Linked DNA regions of Homo sapiens: region 1 is linked to region 2. The links come from fine-mapping of genetic effects on gene expression. A gene starts in region 2. The other region holds a variant in brackets. All regions are shown on one strand. Distances are from middle to middle. Region 1 overlaps TMEM44 (transmembrane protein 44). Region 2 holds the start of TMEM44-AS1 (TMEM44 antisense RNA 1).

Region 1 (9,914 bases), 41 kb after region 2:
ACTAAAAATACAAAAATTAGCTGGGCGTGGTGGTGCATGCCTGTAGTCCCAGCTACTCGGGAGGCTGAGGCAGAAGAATCGCTTGAACCCAGGAGGCGGAGTTTGCAGTGAGCCGAGATCGTGCCATTGCACTCCAGCCTGGCTGACAAGTGAAACTCCGACTCAAAAAAAAAAAAAAAAAAAAAAATACCAGGAAGGGCCCACCCCCAACCTCTTCCCTGTCTTGGTTCTGTTCTCTGAGACTTAAGAGAACAAGGCTGCTCTTTCTGCCCCCACACAGCCCTTCTGATTCCTGCACTCATCAGCTTCCTTTTTTCCAGGCCAGATTAGATTGCTCTCTAAGTGTTTGCTGACTCCTACCATGATCAGGTCCCAGGTGCCTGCAATGCAGTGGGAAATGACACAGACAAGGCCACTGCCCACAAGGTGTTAACATTCCACCTCAGGACCGGGCAGCAACCGGGAAAATAAAGGGGCACATTTCAGGTTGTTACAAATGATCTGAAGAAAATAAAGCAGAGTGAGGGGACACAGTGGTGGGGCTGGCCTGGGGGCTGTTTTAGGTGGGGTGGTGTTATGAGTTGCAATGTGTGCCCCCAAAAGATGTTGAAGTCCCTAGGCCGGGCGTGGTGGCTCAAACCTGTGAGGCCAAACACTCTGGGAGGCCAAGGCGGGCAGATCACTTGAGGTCAGTAGTTCGAGACCAGCCTGGCCAACATGGTGCACTCTCGTCTCTACTAAAAATACAAAAATTAGCCGGGCGTGGTGGCGTGTGCCTGTAATCCCAGCTACTTGGGAGGCTGAGGCACAGAATCACTGGAACCCGGGAGGCAGAGGTTGCAGTCAGCCGAGATTGCATCATGCACTCCAGTCTGGGCAACAGAGCGAGACTCTGTCTCAAAAAAAAAAAAAAAAAAGATGTTGAAGTCCCAACCCCCAGTGTCTGTGAATGCGGCCTTATTTGGAAATAGGGTCTTTGTGGATGATCACGTCAAGATGAGGTCATTAGGATGAGTCCCATTCCAATGTCCTTATAAAAAGGAGCAAGTCGGACACAGAAAGGTACGGAGGGAAGGCCACGAGAAACCCAGGGTTACCACAAGCCAAGGGGCTACCCGAACCTGGGAGAGGAGCGAGGCCTGGAACAGATCCTTCCCTGGCGCCTGCAGAGGGAGCATGGCCCTGCCGGCACCTTGCTCTCAGACTTCTGACCTCTGGCACCGAGACAATAAACTTCTGTTGTTGAAAGTTAGTGGCACTTTGTTACGACAGCCCTAGGGAGCTACTACCGGCGGTCAGGGCACGGTGCCAGCTTCTTCAAAGGCCTTCATGCAATGTGGTCTCCCAGCTCTGACACCACCCTGGAGAGCCACCCCGGTGGGCTGCTGAGCTGAGCCCAGTGCTCACCACTCTCCCCTCCATTAATCTAAAGACAGGACACCTGCTGATGAGGCCCAGGCCCTGCGAGGCTTCTGGCAGTCACAGCACAGAATGCAGCTTCACTGACTTCACCAACAACCGCGAACAACCCTCCAGCCCTGAATCCTGTTCCCCTGGAGCTGCTATTCAACCAAGATGCTCCTGGGCAAGTAATTTTTTTTTTTTTTTTTAGATGGAGTAGTGCTCAGTCACCTAGGATGGAGTGCAGCAGCACGATCTCGGCTCACTGCAACCCCCACCTCCTGGATTCAAGTGATCCATCCTGCCTCCACAGTAGCTGGGATTACAGGCACCCGCCACCACGCCTGGCTAGTTTTTGTATTTTTAGTAGAGACGGGGTTTCAGCATGTTGGCCAGGATGGCCTTGAACTCCTGACCTCAGGTGATCCACCTGCCTCGGCCTCCCAAAGTGCTGGCATTACAGGCATGAGCCACCGCACCCAGCTGATTCTTTTCAGACTAAATGGGCCTATGACTTGCCATGGAGTTGGGTTTGCCCACTGTTCTGTCAGTGAGACAGGAACAGTTGTCTCAGAGTCGTCTGCAGAGGAAACTTGGCAGAGCAGCGGTCACACGTCCACAGTGTCTTGCTGTTTCTCAGGCGCTTTCGCACGTGGGGGCTTTTCCTGTGTGCTCTCCTCTGCCGATGGCCTTTCCCTAGCCTGTGTCCTCAAATTCACGCTCCCTTCTGAGGTAACGTGACGCCTCCCCACCACCCCACGGTCTGGCAGTGTAAACAGTTTTCACCCTTGCTCATTTGAAGAGCGTAGGAGCCTTCTCTCTCTTCTGAAACCCCAAACATTTGTTTCTATCTTTCTTGAAGCGTGAGGAGATGCTGCTTCACATTCCCGTGTCTTCCATGAGACTGAGCTCCCGGAGGGCAAGCGCTCGCCCCTGCTCACATCTTACCCCCCCCAGCACTGGCCGACACAGGGCCTCCCTCAACGTGGATGCCTGGAGAATGCCTGCCCATAAGACACTCTTTTTTTTTTTTTTTTTTTTAGACGGAGTTTCCCTCTTGTCGCCCAGGCTGGAGTGCAGTGGCACAATCTCGGCTCACTGCAACCTCTGCCTCCTGGGTTCAAGCGATTCTCCACCTCAGCCTCCAGAGTAGCTGGGATTACAAGCATGCACCACCATGCCTGGCTAATTTTTGTATTTTAGTAGAGACAGGGTTTCACCGTGTTGGTCAGGCTAGTCTCCAACTCCTGACCTCAAGCGACCCGCCCCGCCTCGGCCTCGCAAAGTGCTGGGATTCCAGGCGTGAGCCCCCGCGCCCGGCCTAAGACACTCTTGATCTACACAGAACCTCACACCTGGCTGCCTGTCCGGTGTCAAATCTCCTTCTCTTATGGGTTCAGCCTCAGGGGCTTCTTCCTCAGAGCCTGCTTTTCATTTGCTATAGGAAATGGGGAAGAACACACGGGCTTTCCCCGAGAGGCTCCCGCCGTCCTCAGGACGCCCTGGGTTGGCTGCCCACTCTCCACACACACCCCCTCCTTGCTGTCATACACACTAACGCTCTTCAGGAAAAGCTGAGCCCATGTCCATGCACCCACGGTGACGCCACACCTCCGCCCCATGACCCTCTCAGGATGCTCCCAGATGCCCTGAGACTGTCATGTGACCCACAGTCCCATCCCCACCCCCGGCCTCACAATTCTGGAGAGAGGGGGGATCCGAGAAGCCCAGGAGCCAAAGGCAGCAACGCTACCCAGCAGGTAGCCGAGGATCTCAGTATTTTCCTGCAAGAACGAACAGGTGATCCACCATCAGTACTCTGCAGAGACTGCCCATGTGCCCCAAGAAACAGCCAAAGCTCAGGAGTCCTTTTCTGCTTTTAGAGGGTTCTTCCAACAAAGGAAGGCTTAACCCCACTCCCCTAGCCCCGGCCTCATCCCACCCTGGGCATTTGGCAGGACATGCAGTACCCCGAGTCCTCCCCACGGTGGCCCAGCCTCACCTGCAGCAGGCTCGCTAGCAGCCTCCGCTGTGGCCCCCGGATGGTGGCTGAAGCCTTCGGGACAGCAACCCACAGAGCCCAGCACGGGCCCAGGCTCAGCGGCAGGGCCAGGGCAAACACACTGGCCCTGAGCTGCCGCCTCCTCTTCCTCTCTCGGGCTTCCCGATCTGCAACAGACACCAAAATCCCACATGGCTCCTGGAAGCCAGACCTTGTCAGATCAGATAGCTGCGTGGGAAGAACTGGTGTCAGCTCCCCACATGATGCTGAAGCGGGTTCCCACATTATTCTGCAGGCCAGCTCCTCCCCACCCTTCAGGGCCCTGTAGTTGTGCCACCTCTTCAAGGAGTCTTTCCTCTCCACCACTGACTGCACACCCCACCCCCATAACGTGCTGCCCTCCTTCCTCAGGCAGAGATGACATTATCTTCTCTCTATGCATCTGCGTGCAGACAGCAGTGCCTCTTCTGGACTAGAGCGCCTAAGGATAAGGCACCATCCTCTGGTGGTTTCTACAATCTCCACAGAGCAGAACCGGTACAAGTGTGGTACAAGCATCGACCCGTGAATCAGCGATGGCACCAGCGGGAACTGTGCGCGGGACAAACAGCAATGAGCAGTGTCTTTGTCCCTGAACTGTAAGATAGGCACTCCTCTGAGCAATTCTGTTTATTTTTTCTTTTTGAGATGAGGTCTCATTAGGTTGCCCAGGCTGGACTTGAACTCCTGGGCTCAAGCGATCTCCCACCTTGGCCTCATGAGTGGCTGGGATTCCGGGTGTAAGCCACTGCCCAGCTCTCTCCTGAGAAACTCTAAGAAGAGCATTTCTCTTCTGGGCAGCATTGAGCCGCTGAGGGCATGCTTCACTACACACTGCTGCAGCACCCCCTCTGATTCATTTATTATTTTTGAGACAGGGTCTCGCTGTCACCCAGGCTGGAGTGCAGTGGCACAATCACAGCTCACTGCAGCCTCCACCTCCTGGGCTCAAGTGATCCTCCCACCTCAGTCTCCCAAACAGCTGGGACCACAGGCATGCACCATCATGCCCAGCTACTTTTTAAAATGTTTGTAGAGATAGGGTCTTGCTATGTTGCCCAGGCTGGCCTCAAACTTTTGGCCTCAAGCAATCTTCCCAACTCAGCCTCCCGAAGTGCTGGGATTACAGGCATGAGCCACCACACCACTTGGTTCATCCCCTTTTTTTTTTTGAGACAGAGTTTTGCTCTTGTTGCCCACGTTGGAGTGCAGTTGTGCGATCTGCAACCTCCAGTTCCCGGGTTTAAGCAATTCTCCTGCTTCAGCCTCCCAAATAGCTGGGATTATAGGTGCATGCCACCACATCCAGCTAATTTTTGTATTTTTTTAGTAGAGACAGGGTTTCACCATGTTGGCCAGGCTGGTCTCGAACTCCTGACCTCAAAATGATCTGCTTGCCTCAGCCTCCCAAAGTGCTGGGATTACAGGTGTGGGCCACCATGCCCGGCCCCCTCATCCCCTCTTTTTGAACAAGGGCCCAAGCACATGGCTGACCCTTCTCAAGAAGCCGCAACCACAGACACTCGGGGCCACTCATCCTGGCCCAGTCATTTCCGACCCCTGCTGTGCCTGTGGTGGTGCCCTGTGCCCATTCCTGGCATCCACTTCCAGTAGCTGTGAAGCTTCGCTTGACCACCCCGAACTTGCACACTAAGCTATCACTGCTCATGCCCATGCCCTGCTCCACACCTCCTCCTAGCCTTTGCCCATGCTGCTCTGTGTGCCTGGAGTGCCCTGCCTGTGGCCCCAGCTCTAGTGCCCCATGCTTCCTTGACACCAGCAGCCCTTCCCTCCCTCTGGCTGCCCACAGTGTGCACACACCTCCAAGCTGGCAGCCCTAATGAGACACTCTCCTTCTTTTTTGGGGGGGGGGGGTTGTTTTTGTTTTTTGTTTTTTTTGAGACGGAGTCTCGCTCTGTCACCAGGTTTGTTGAGACGGACTCTTGCTCTGTCGCCAGGCTGGAATGCAGTGGTGCGATCTCAGCTCACTGCAACCTCCGCCTCCTGGGTTCAAGCGATTCTCCTGCCTCAGCTTCCCGAGTAGCTGGAATTACAGGCGCACGCCACCACACCCGGCTAGTTTTTGTATTTTCAGTAGAGACAGGGGTTTCACCATGTTGGCCAGGATGGTCTGGATCTCCTGACCTCATGATCTGCCCACCTCAGCCTCCCAAAGTGCTGGGATTCCAGGC[G/C]TGAGCCACCGCGCCCAGCCTTTCTCCTTTGTTTGTGCCTGGCTGGGGCCCGCTCTGGGAGTGATAAGGAGTAGGCATTCGGCGTGCTGATGAATGAATGGGTGAATAAAGACAGGAAAAGACAGCCACACACTCACCTGAATTAGACTTGAATTTGGATCCACAGACTGGGAAGAGAATGAACATAAAGTTCACTAAGTCAATAGCTGCTAGGTAGGCACCAGTGAAAACCTGGGAGCAAACGGGAAGAGAGTCTTGGCATTCAAGCATCTTTCCTCAGCCCCTACAGAGTTTGTCATCCGGGACCCTGTATCACATGGGTTACACTGATGCGGTGCTTTCTTACGTACTCCTCCAGGGACACCTCCTGCCAACCCCGGAAAAGTCCATTATCATGTCCACTTGGCTGATGAGGAGATGAGGTGTTTACATGACTGAACCCACGGTATGCAGATGCCCACCAGCAGGGTTGGGATAAGAGCCCAGCCCTCCAGCTCTATTCCACACACTTCCCACTGCGTGAGGCAGTCTCTGCTGTGTACCCTTGGCCCACTGAGCTTCTCTGGCGCTCAGTTTCCCCATCTGTAAAACGAGCAAACTAACAGTGCTTCCCTCAAAGACTGTCAGGAAGGTTACTTGAGACAGTACATGGGCAGTGTTTACACCAGTGTCTATGGGAAAGCAAACTACCTCTAAAGGCACCAGCTCCTCTGATAGTAGAGTTAGCGGTGAAGAACTTGCATTGTGGAGTTTGAATCGCGGAATCTTGGCACTGCTACTTACTAGATGGGTGACCCTTAACCTCTCTATGCTTCAGTCTCTACATCTGTAGAACAGGAATAATGAGGACACTCATGTCATAGGATGCTGGGATTCCAGGAGTCAACACAAAACGGTCTGTAGTGCCAAGTATGTAGTTAAGTTTTTTTTTTTTTTTTTTTTGAGACGGAGTCTCGCTCTGTCACCCAGGCTGGAGTGCAGTGGCGTGATCTCGGCTCACTGCAAGCTCCACCTCCTGGGTTCACGCCATTCTCCTGCCTCAGCCTCCCGAGCAGCTGGGACTTCAGGCGCCTGCCACCACGCCCGGCTAATTTTTTTTTGTATTTTTAGTAGAGACAGGGTAGTTTTTAATAAATATTATTATTGGACTTGAGCTGGGACCTACTGTATTTTTTTTTTTTTGAGACGAAGTCTTGCTGTTGCCCAGGCTGGAGTGCAGTGGCACGATCTCGGCTTACTGCAACCTCCGCCTCCCAGGTTCAAGTGATTCTCCTGCCTCAGCCCGCTGAGTAGCTGGGACTACAGGCACGCGCCACCACGCCCAGCTAGTTTTCTCCATGTTGGCCAGGCTGGTCTTGATCTCCTGACCTCAGGCAATCTGCCCGCCTTAGCCTCCCAAAGTGCTGGGATTGCAGGCATGAACCACTGTGCCCAGCTGGCCCTATTGTATTCTATTAGCTAATGAGAATGGGCACCCAAAATGAAAGGTGATTTGCTTTTGAGACAACACTGCTTGAAGCAGGGTCTAGAATGCTCCAAATCTGTGCTCTGCCAACTGAGCTGCCTTCCTTCATTTCTACCTGGATGGGCATAAGACCAAGACCAGTCCCATGAGGTGCCTCCGCAGGAGGGCACAACAGGTTTTCCTGGGGATATGTGTTTTGGGATAGGAGCCTTCCACACAGGTTTGAGGGCCTACGCTTTTGAGAAACTTGAAACTACTTCTCACTTGCCCCAAAGCCTACACCACTACCTGGGAAAGGACTCAGCCACCCTACATAAGCTGGGGCTGGGTCAAAGCTCTAAATGACTATGTATTGGGCACCTACTAGGAGCCAGGTGCTGTTTTAAGTGATGGGGATACAGCAGTGAACAAATCCTTGCCCTTGTAGAGCTGACACTCTAATGGGAGTTCACATACAAGAAGTAATAAACAGGTCAGGCGTGGTGGCTCAGGCCTGTAATCCTAGCACATTGGGAGGCTGAGGCAGGCAGATTGTCCTGAGGTCAGGAGTTCGAGACCAGCCTGGGCAACATGGTGAAACCCCATCTCTATTAAAAATACAAAAAATTAGCCAGTGTGGTGGCGTGCGCCTGTAATCCCAGTTACTCGGGAGGCTGAGGCAGGAGAATTGCTTGAACCCAGGAGACGGAGGCTGCAGTGAGCCAAGACCAAGTCATTGCATTCCAGCCTGGGCGACAGAGTAAGACTCTGTCTCAAAAAACAAACAAGCAAAAAAAAAAGTCACCTTCTCAATAAGACCTCCCCTGCTTATAATGGTGACCCACCTCTTCCACCAGTGTTCTGGATTCCCTTATTCTAATCTATTTAGAGGCCTGCCTCGGCCTCCCAAAGTGTTGATTACAGTGTGAGCCACTGCTCCTGGCCGTGAGAAGTGACTTTTGAGCAAAGACGTGAAGGACTAAGCAGGCAGCCAAGTGGATATTGGGAACAAGAGCCTCTGAGGGGGGCAGAAGGAACAGCCAGGCACAGGTTCTGAGGTGACACTGTGCTATGCATGTTGCAGCAACAAGACAAAAGCCACCACGGCTGCAGCAGAGAGAAAGGCCAGGCCTCCCTTAGTGCTGGCCTAAGCCACTGTCAGCTGGAGGCCCAACATACCTGGATTGTGAGCTGTCTGGCCAGAAGAGCCCCGACGGTGTCACACAGACTGGTCAGGAGGCAGCACGCAGCACACAGTGCCGACTGGTCCTGTCTGGGTTTCTGTGCACATCTCAGATAGAGAAGCCTGGGGTGACAGGGGTGTGGACAGAACACAGCAACTGTGAGTTTGGACCCAAACGCATGTATCTAAAAAGGGCAACTGTGACCCCGCATCGTCAGGGAGCTCTTTCTGCCCGAGGTATTTAGGACGTGTTTTTGAACTGAGTTTACAGATGGGAACCAATCAGAAGACTCCAGAGCCGCCTGTCCAGATGCCCATGGCAGGAGCTAGACCTCGTGAGATGTGAAGACACCGCCTCTTTGGAGGAAGAGGAATTTTACTTTCCGACTCCAAATCAGGACGGCTCCATTTGATGACCCCCCACCTAGCACTGAAAAAGCAGCCATCGGGTTTTATTTTTTGAAAAGGAAACAGGAGGGTTATAAAAGTAACTCAGGCTGGGTATGGTGGCTCACACCTGTAATCCCAGCAGTTTGGGAGGCCGAGGCAGGAGGATCCTCTGAGGTCAGGAGTTCGAGACCATCCTGGCCAACATGGTGAAACCCCGCCCCTACTAAAAATACAAAAATTAGCCGGGTGTGGTGGCGTGCGCCTGTAATCCCAGCTACTCCGGAGGCTGAGGCAAGAGAATTGCTTGAACCCAGGAGGCAGAGGTTGCAGTGAGCCAAGATCACACCATTGCACTCCAGCCTGGGTGACAAAGCGAGACTCCGTCTCAAAAAAAAAAAAAAGCAACCCAACCACTGCAGATAACTGCAGAGCACAGTTAATTGCCTGAATTAAAAAGACAACTTGTTTCTCTGAAATAAATTCAAACGAAATTCTTCTAAACCATCTGTGAAGTGGGGCAGCCTGGCTTCTGCTGGCCTGTGTCCATGTTCTTTAAACACAGAGCCCTTTTGGCACTTGGAGCTGTCCCTCCCTCAGCGCCCCCACAGCCACTTCTCCCCTTACAGCCCCTCCCCAGTCCATATCCACTGGAGAAGATGCACGGAAGGGCAGGAAGGGGCTGGCTGTTTCTATCAGCGTCACTGATAGGGCCTCTGAAATACGTTGTTGTACATGCCTCCCGAAGGGGCTGGCTGTATCTATCGGCGTCACTGATAGGGCCTCTGAAATACATTGTCGTACATGCCTCCTGAAGGGGCTGGCTGTTTCTATCGGCGTCCCTGATAGGGCCTCTGAAACACGTTGTCGTACCTGCCTCCCGAAGGGGCTGGCTGTTTCCATCGGCGTCACTGACAGGGCCCCTGAAATAATACGCTGTCGTACCTGCCTCCCGGAGGGGCTGGCTGTTTCCATCGGCGTCACTGATAGGGCCCCTGAAATAATACGCTGTCGTACCTGCCTCCCGGAGGGGCTGGCTGTTTCCATCGGCGTCACTGATAGGGCCCCTGAAATAATACGCTGTCGTACCTGCCTCCCGAAGGGGCTGGCTGTTTCCATCGGCGTCACTGATAGGGCCCCTGAAATAATACGCTGTCGTACTGCCTCCCGAAGGGGCTGGCTGTTTCCATCGGCGTCACTGATAGGGCCCCTGAAATAGTATGCTGTCGTACCTGCCTCCAGAAGGGGCTGGCTGTTTCCATCGGC
Region 2 (9,216 bases):
CTCAGCTCACTGCAGCTTCTGACTCCTGGGTTCAAGAAATTCTCCTACCTCAGCCTCCCGAGTAGCTGGGATTACAGGTGCCCACCACCACGCCTGGCTAATTTTTGTATTTTTAGTAGACAGGGTTTCACCACGTTGGCCAGGTTGGTCTCGAACTGCTGACCTCAGGTGATCCACCCGCCTCAGCCTCCCAAAGTGCAGGGATTATAGGCGTGAGCCACTGTGCCCGGCCTTTTTTTGTTTTTGAGATGGAGTTTCGCTCTTGTTGCCCAGGCTGGAGTGCAATGGCGCCATCTCAGCTCACCGCAACCTCCGCCTCCTGGCTCCAAGCAATTCTCCTGCCTCAGCCTCCTGAGTAGCTGGGATTACAGGCAGGTGCCACCACACCCGGCTAATTTTGTATTTTTAGTAGAAACAGGGTTTCTCCATGTTGGTGAGGCTGGTCTCGAACTCCTGACCTCAGGTGATCCACCTGCCTCGGCCTCCCAAAGTGCTGGGATTACAGGCGTGAGCCACGCCTGGCGAGAATCTTTCTTTACTCCTGTTCTTTCTCACCCAGCTGGCTTTGAAAAACTTCCAACCTACAGAAAAGATGAAAGAATAACGAACATGTTTATGCTATTCGCCTAGATTAATCCATTGTTCCCGTTTTTCCGTTTGCTTTGTCTCTCTCCAACTACCTGAAAAATTTATAATTTTTTTCTGCTGAAATATTTAAAAGTCAGTTGCTTGGGGCCAGGTGCGGTGGCTCACACCTGTAATCCCAGCACTTTGGGAGGCCAAGGCGGGAGGATCACGAGGTCAGGAGATCGAGACCATGGTGAAACCCCGTCTCTACTAAAAATACAAAAAAAAATTAGCCAGGCATGGTGGCAGGCGCCTGTAGTCCCAGCTACTCAGGAGGCTGAGGCAGGAGAATGGTGTGAACCCGGGAGGCGGAGCTTGCAGTAAGCCGAGATCATGCCACTGCACTCCAGCCTGGGCGAGAGAGCGAGACTCTGTCTCAAAAAATAAAAATAAAAAATAAAAAATAAAAGTCAGTTGCCAAATCACGGTGCTTCACTCCTAAGTAGTTCAGCATGTATATCCAAAGGGGCGTTCTCCTGTGCAACCATAATATTATTAAGAAAGGAAACAATAAAGTTAGCTAATACACTGTACATATTCAAATTTGCTCAATTGTCCCAGTAATCCCATATAGCTCTCCCACCCCATCCCCACTGCAGACTCCTTTAAACTAGAACAGTTCTCTTAAGATGTATTTAAGTATTTCCACAGTCAAGAAACATCTACTACAAAAATCCACATAATCTTTTTACAACAGAATCTAATGACTTCTAAGACTTTTCTGATCTATCAAAATTTTTCTTATAATTGTGAATGGTGGCTCAAGCTCTCTTGTGTTCTACCTTTACTAGTTTACATTATGGTTTTGTTTTTTTTTTGAGACAGAGTTTTGCTCTGTTGCCCAGGCTGGAGTGCAGTGATCACTGCAACCTCCGCCTTCTGGATTCAAGCAATTCTCCTGCCTTAGCCTCCCGAGTAGCTGGGATTACAGGCGTGTGTCTAATTTTTGTATTTTTAGTAGAGACGGGGTATTCACCATGTTGGCCAGGCTGGTCTTGAACTCCTGACCTCAGGTAATCTGCCCCCACTTGGCCTCCCAAAGTACTGGGATTACAGGGGTGAGCCACTGCACCCGGCCTATTAGCTGACATTATCTTTCATAATTTTTTTTTTTTTTTTTTTACTGTGTGTGAACTGAGAATTCATGCTGTGAGAACAGGCAAAGCCACTCAGGCACTGCAGTAGATGATTTCAAGGTAATTCATGTCTGTTCTTCAATCCATGGTTCTGTGATATTTTAGGTTTAATGGCAAAATGTCATTTCTTCATTAAAGCATAATGTTTGGGCCAGGTGTGGTGGATCATGCCTGTAGTCCCAGCGCTTTGGGAGGCCGAGGAAGGTGGATCACTTGGGGTCAGAAGTTCAAGACCAGCCTGGCCAACATGGCGAACCCCGTCTCCACTAAAAATACAAAATGTAGCCAGTCATGGTGGCACGCGCCTGTAGTCCCAGCTACTCGGGAAGCTGAGGCAGGAGAATCGCCTGAACCCAGGAGGCAGAGGTTGCAATGAGCTGAGATGGCACCACTGCATTCCAGCTTGGGCAACAGAGACAGACTCCATCTCAAAAAAAAAAAAAAAAAAGTATGTTTAATTCTGCACAACAGTGGGGTTTGGGAGCTTTATCACTTTTTTTTTGTTTGTTTGCTATTCTAAGTAGTTTTGTGAGAACATCTCATACAAATAGATCTGTTTTAAAAGTAATTTCCCGGCTGGAGTGGTGGCTTGTGCCTGTAATCCCAGTACTTTGGGGGACCAAGGCAGGAGGATCTCTGGAGCCCAGGAGTTCGGAACCAGCCTGGGCATCATAGTGAGACTCCGTCTCTGTATTTGAAAATGATAACAAAATACCAAGAAGAGATGGAAAAAGTAAATACATAAAAGCAATTTCCCGAGGACAGTGTTTTTCAGAGACTGGTCCTGGACCATCTGTAGCAGAATCACCTGAGGAGCCTGCTAAGCTTCCCAAGCCCTGCCCAGACCTAGGGAATCCTCCGGGTGGAGCCTAAGAGTCTACATTTGAGTATCAGGGCTTTAGGCTATACTGGCTAGCAGAAGGTAAGGCCCATGAAATGGCCCTTTTCATCCATGGCCATGCTGTCCTTGGGAAAGATGGTGGTGGCCGCCGTGTATGACGTCCCTTGTTCCAGCTGTGGGTTTAGAGAATCCCTCAGATTTCCTCTGGAGATTCCAGGTGCCAAGACACCTGTAGGAGGAAGGCCGGAAGGGAAAGGTCAAGTCCGGAGCAGAGGCGTGGACCGCGGCAGGCTGCTGTTGGAGCGTGCTGGGCTCAGAAGCCGGGTTCTAGCTAGGAAACTGCGGAGTGGCCAAGGAGTTCCTGGCGCGAGGCACGCCACACAACCCTCGGATGCGAAGACGGTGACCATCCATTTCTCAATACGCCAGTGGCCCTGCCGTGCTACTGAGCCTCGTCAGCCTGTATAATGGAAGCTGAAGATGATGCAGCTCAGGAAAAGCAAGTATGATCTTAAGAACCCTGTAGCTGGAAAGCATGTTCCAAATCAAACCTAATGGAGACAACTACTAGAAGGTATAAAAGTTTTTTTTTTTTTTGAGACAGAATTTTGCTCCTGTTGCCTAGGCTGGAGTGCAGTGGCGCGGTCTCAGCTCACTGCAGCCTCTGCCTCGCCGGTTCAAACGATTCTCCTGCCTCAGCCTCCCAAGTAGCTGAGACTACAGGCGCCCACCACCACGCCCGGCTACTTTTTGTATTTTTGGTAGGGACGGGGTTTCACCATGTTGGCCAGACTGATCTCAAACTCCTGACCTCAGATGATCCGCCCGCCTCACCCTCCCAAAGTGTTGGGATTACAGGCGTGAGCCACCGCGCCCAGCCCAAAAGATTTTAAAAAGGAGTCTCTTGGAGGCAAAGGGACAGAACATTATTGTTTTTCATCATAAACCTTTTGGTGCAATCTGATTTTCTTTTTTTAAACCATGTACTTGCACTATTTTTATCTCAAAAAAGGTTTTTAATGCATTTAAAAACAAAGAAAAGAATGGTTTATAATACACCGTTAGGCTTCTGGGAGGTCTGAAACACACTATGAACCGTAAAATAACCTTGTAATTATCTCCTTAAAAACCGAGTGGGGTGGGCCAGGCGTGGTGGCTCACGCCTGTAATCCCAGCACTTTGGGAGGCCGAGGCGGGCGGATCACGAGGTCAGGAGTTCGAGACCAGCCTGACCAACATGGTGAAACTCCGTCTCCACTAAAAATACAAAAATTAGCCGGGCGTCGTGGCGCGCCCCTGTAGTCCCAGCTATTCAGTCGCAGAAGAATCGCTTGAATTCGGCAGGCGGAGGCTGCAGTCAGCAGAGACCGCGCCACTGCATTCCAGCCTGGGCGACAGAGACTCCGTCTCAAATAAACAAACCAAAACTGAACTACGGAGACGCCCTCGACAGTTCTTTCCCGGCTGCGTCGCCGCTGGCTGAGGTCAGAAACGCCGGCCTTCGGCTGCGGCGGCGGCTGCGGCGGCGGGGCGGGGCCGCGGGACTCTCGCTCCTCGCGGGAGGCGGTGGCTGCGGAGTGCGCACGCGCGGAACCGCAATTCCGTTCTTCCCGGAAGTGCCCTGCTGGTGCTGGGAGTAGGGCGCAAGATGTCGGCGGATGCAGCTCCGAGGAGGTAGGCAGTGGGAGCCGGCGTTCAGTCCGGCCCGTGCCAACAGTGGTTCCTCTCTCCCCCGTAGTTCGAGGAGACCACGCGCTGCCCCTCTGGCACGATCGTGGATGAACCCCCTGGCAACTGAAATGGGAAAGGCAGCGCCCCCGACTCTGGGGACTGGACCGAAGTCCACGGTAGTGACAGCTGCCAGACCCTGAGGAGAGGACGAGAAGACCCGAGGCCTCTGCTACGAACACTGGCAGCCGATGGAAAATTCAGACGGATTTGGGACAGTATGCAGAGTTCTCCAAGCGACAGATTAACAGAGGCTCTTGAAGAATAACTGCGTAATCACGTGTTCTGCTCAAAAGAAGGCCTGAATGCCCAGTGCCTTATTTGGCTTTCAGGGTTGGTGAAAGAAAAAGCAAAGTAGATGCTTTCTAATGCTAAGTCATTTAATGTAGCACCATTCCTTGAACTTCTTTCATCTCTAAGGTCGTCCCTTTCACCTGATGATGACCTTTGGGCCATCGTACAGGCATGTGTAAACTTGGAGATCTTCCTCAACATTGCACCATATCTTGGGTTCATTCAAGGCAGAGTCTCCTTGCAAAAGCATTCTAAAACAATGTAAAGTCGAAGAGAGTAGAGCAATACCTCCATAGTTGGAAAATGTGGAGGAGGCCAATTAAGGGACAGAAAAAGAAGTGCAGAGAATCTTGGAATTGTTGCAAAATTATTCTGGAGATATTTCTAAGTCTCCTCTATCCTTTTCCTTAGTGATTAATACAGGTTTTTATATTAAGTGGACAGTAAAATCCAAACAGAAAGAGGTATATGTCGTATAATGAAGCCTATGTTCAAAGTATATCTGAAATTTGTTTTTATAATGTCTTTCTTGAGAGCTTATAAAGATGTCAGTATTCTGTGGGAAACAAATTGGCACATGCATAAAAGAGAAAAAATGAAAAAAATCAGGCCCAACTTTCAGTTTACAGATGAGGAAACTGTGACATAGAAAAGGAAATGACAAAGATCACACTGAATCAGACCTGGGAACTGGAGCCCAGCCATGCTCCTTGGCCCAGTGCCTCTTCTTATTCTAGGAGCTCATACCCCTTTGAAAGAAACATAATATGAATGTGTCTTCAAATGATGCTCATAAATCTCTTCATCATACTGAGGGAGGGAGATAAGGGGATTAGTTCTTCAGGATCTAGACAGGCTTTCAAGAAAATCTTTAGCTGGGTGCGGTGGCTCATTCGTGTAATCCCAGCGCTTTGGGAGGCTGAGGCAGGTGGATCACCTGAGGTCAGGAGTTCCAGATCAGGCTGGCCAACAGCGTCTCTACTAAAAATACAAAAATTAGCCAGGCATGGTGGCGGGAGCCTGTAATCCCAGCTACTCGGGAGGCTGAGGCAGGAGAATCGCTTGAACCTGGGAGGCGGAGGTTGCAGTGAAGTGAGATCGTGCCATTGCACTCCAGGGCAACGAGTGAAACTCCATCTCAAAAAAAAAAAAAAAATCATCATCATCATCATCTTAGCAGAGCTCTCGCTAAATGATAAAGACTTGGCAACTGATATCCTTTTTTTCAGAGAACTTAAGTAGAGACTGGATAATCACTAATTGGGGTTGTGTTTAAGGGCATTCAAACCTCTGAAATCTCTTCCATCTGCAGGTCTAATTATTTGGTTACTCTTTCAGTACATGTGTGCAGGAAGCATGGGGGGAAAGAAAACTAATCCCTCTCCAAAGTCTTCTTTGAATAGGTATTATGTTTGCATTTTCATACATGTTAGTTCACTTAGTCTTCACCATAGGCTTTCTAGGTTGGTATTATTCTTAGTCTACCTAAGAAGTTCACAAAGGTTAGGTGACATGCTCCAAGCCACACAGATGATAGGCGGCACAACCAGATGATACTACAGGTCTCCAGATGAGTGAGCCAATGATTACATAGTTTGTTCCCCAGCCCCTCCCCAGTGTAGGTAAAGTGCCTGCACTGCTCACTGGGTCATCAGAGCAAGTTGCTCCCACTGCCCTCTTGGTCTAACGGCTAGAAACAAAGCTGCAACAGAGGCCCACTCCTACTAGGAGACAGGCATTTTAATTGGCACCTCCTTACAAAGGCTCCAGTGTTCTAGAGCTTTGCATACAGGAAGATTCTCGTTGAACAATGAAGCCAAACCTCGCTTCCAAAATTCCCAGTTTGGTAGTTCACTGTGGATGAAGAGGCCGGAGACACCCTTAGACAAGCTGGGACCGTGATGATAGGAACCAGTTTGTGAAGGGAGGAGGCTGGGCTAACAGGATCTAGGGAGATAGATGATATCTGGACCTTAGGTAGTTCGTGTTACTCAAAGTCAGCAAGGTTTTTGTTGTTTTTTGAGACAGTCTTGTTATGTTGCCCAGCCTGGAGTGCAGCAGTGCGATCTCAGCTCGCTGCAACCTCCACCCCGTGGGTTCAAGCAATTCTTGTGCCTCAGCCTCCTGAGTAGCTGGGACTACAGGTGCGGGCCGCCACACTTGGCTAATTTTTTGTACTTTTAGTAGAGATGGAGTTTCACCATGTTGGCCAGGCTGGTCTTGAAGTCCTGTCCTCAAGTGATCTGCCTGCCGCAGCTTACCACAAGTGCTGGGATTACAGGTGTGAGCCACTGCACCTGGCCAAGATCATTTGATGTTCTTGGGTGAATGGCCACTTTCACCTGGATCCCACCAATTTTTGGTGCCCTAGGGAGCATGATCCAGAGTTCCCTCAAGACAGAGGATGTGCTAAAGGCAAACTCCAGAGGTCATCCTATCCCCATGCCTTCCGCCTTTCTAAAGAGAAGCTCTTCTGCCCTGCTGTTACCACTCAGTACTCTAGATTAAACCTGTTCCCCACGTTCATTCTGTACCCATGACTATATTTCTGCTTCCTGGAAAGTTGTAGCCATAGGAATGAAAAACTCACCAATCAGTTGTGGTCTTCCTGAGGCAAGTCAGTCACCTTCCTACTCTGGTATCTTCCATGGCTACCAGCTGGCCACAGAACCAAGCACTGACTCACCAGCCTCCAGTCTGGTTCCTTTTCAGCCTTTTTGCCACCCCTACAGCCCATACTACATCATCCATTCTGGCCATCTCAGATTCTTCCTTGCTAGCTCCCACCTTTCCCTGCATCCAGTCCTCTGTACTATTTCATCTATTTGAACACTCTTTTCTCCCTGCATCCTGGGTCTCCATTCAAATCTTCCTCTTCCCTGGAAGTACAGCTTCAGTGGTTAACATCACAAAGCAAAGCTGACTTCAGCAAACTTTCCAAGACAACCAGGGACCAACACAGTTCAGATTAAAGGGGATAAATAAAGTGGCTTTAAGATCACTTGTAGTTCAGAGGTCACCCAGGGGATTAGGATCTATGCAGAGACCTGCAGAGCCACGCTGCTTCCCCAAGGGACCCCCTTCATGCTGCTGGAACTTGCCCTACCCCTCAGGAGAAACTGGGCTGCTGTAGCTGCGTCACGCAGGCGGCTGTGGGCCAGCCCGGAGCAAAACTGTGTTGCTTGGCATTTCTCCACTTCCTCTCGTGGCCGACGTCATTCTGTGACTGTGCAGGGATTCATGCTCGCCATTGCACTCCACAGTGAGATACTTGAATTGATTTAAAATTTATTCACCCCAGTGTTCACTCCCACCTTAGCCCCATTCCATGCGCCCTTACCCTTACTCATCGCAGTATCAAAATAACTCCCAAATGGGATTGCTGTGCTTGAACACCTCCCATCATGCCTCTTACCTTCTGCATGCATTTAGTTAGTTCCTGAAGCATACAGCCCCCTCACCTGCAAGCCCCGCCTCAGCGCACACCCTTGCCAGGTTGGAGGAAGTCCTGGTACCCGGAGCAGTTTGCTTTGTTTTTGCAGTGTCAGTGATCTCACAAGCACTTGGTTGGCCACACAGTCCTATCGATAACTTCCAGCAGATAACCCAAGTGGGTGACTGGGGGGTGGAAGCCAGGTCTCGGTTCCTGTGTGTGACCCAAGGCCCCCCAGCACAGGGCCCACCCTCTCATCTGGCTCAGCCAGGTCTTGCAGAATGGGCTCTGCTGAGATCTAACCAGACACATTTGCTATCTGTTAGGTGAGCTCATTCCTGGAACCTAGCAGGTATTCCGTTCATGGCTGACTCTCAAGGGAATGAAGGGAAAAGGAAGAGCGGGTCTGAGATCCTTTGGATTATCTTTACGAAGCAAAAGCTTCTGTGAACTGTGATCTTCAGAACGAATGCTGGGCCTATCCAGGTCTGTCCGCAGTACCCAAAGTCGTAGCTCCGTGATGAGCTATGATGTAGCCCAGCCACACTCAGTGACGGCTCCTGGTTCCTCACTTGCCAGGGCAGCTTCAGTTCCTGCCGCGGTGTCAGTGCAGATTGATTCCCGCTGCGTTACTGAACGAACTCCTGACCCTGGGCTCTGAGCTGATGAGCTGGCTCCAGAAGGTGTTAATCATCATCACTCAGGTGTGCTGTCCTCACAGAGTCCTGGTGCACCTGGGATCCCAGTAGCTCCACATTTTCTTTGCTGCCTTCGAGGTTCACATCTTCAGGGTCCCACTATGGAGAAAAGATGCAAAGGGTAGCTGGGTGGAACGGATAGATGCTTCTCATCTGTCATAACCCCTGACCCAAACAAAAGCTCCAATCTTGGTTCTCATGATCCAGGCACAGACAAGGACAAAAGGGTAAGGACAAGTTACCCAGGCCTGTGTTTCTGGGACCTAAGGAGGCAAGCATAACTTTACATCAAGCAACTAATGAACAACCACCCTAAACATAACAGCTTCACTTTCCTTCCCGCCCTCATTCTCCACTCTTCTCTGCCTCTACCAAGTCCTTATCTAGTGACACTGAGTCATGTTCTCCTTATCCTGACTCCATGCCTAACTCATTCCTGGAAAAAACCAGGCAAACTTA

The links.
Region 1: its variant is fine-mapped to the expression of TMEM44-AS1 in minor salivary gland (GTEx, PIP above 0.99).

The regions. Positions count from the first base shown.
Region 1 is chr3:194,620,126-194,630,039 of GRCh38, forward strand. It overlaps TMEM44 (transmembrane protein 44), which reads right to left. Exons shown (of 10, transcript NM_001011655.3): 2 at 8,258-8,384; 3 at 5,772-5,865; 4 at 3,404-3,570; 5 at 3,099-3,185. Among named protein-coding and RNA genes, the nearest start is that of TMEM44-AS2, 7.8 kb to the right of the region's middle. RefSeq lists an enhancer at 2,524-3,067. The variant G/C (reference allele first, on the strand shown) is at 5,635.
Region 2 is chr3:194,579,784-194,588,999 of GRCh38, forward strand. It overlaps TMEM44-AS1 (TMEM44 antisense RNA 1), which reads left to right and starts at 4,485. Exons shown (of 3, transcript NR_047575.1): 1 at 4,485-4,665. TMEM44 (transmembrane protein 44) reads right to left here. Exons shown (of 10, transcript NM_001011655.3): 10 at 7,895-8,856. The coding sequence ends at 8,746. RefSeq lists enhancers at 3,751-4,416, 4,452-4,501, 8,905-9,216 and a silencer at 4,002-4,261.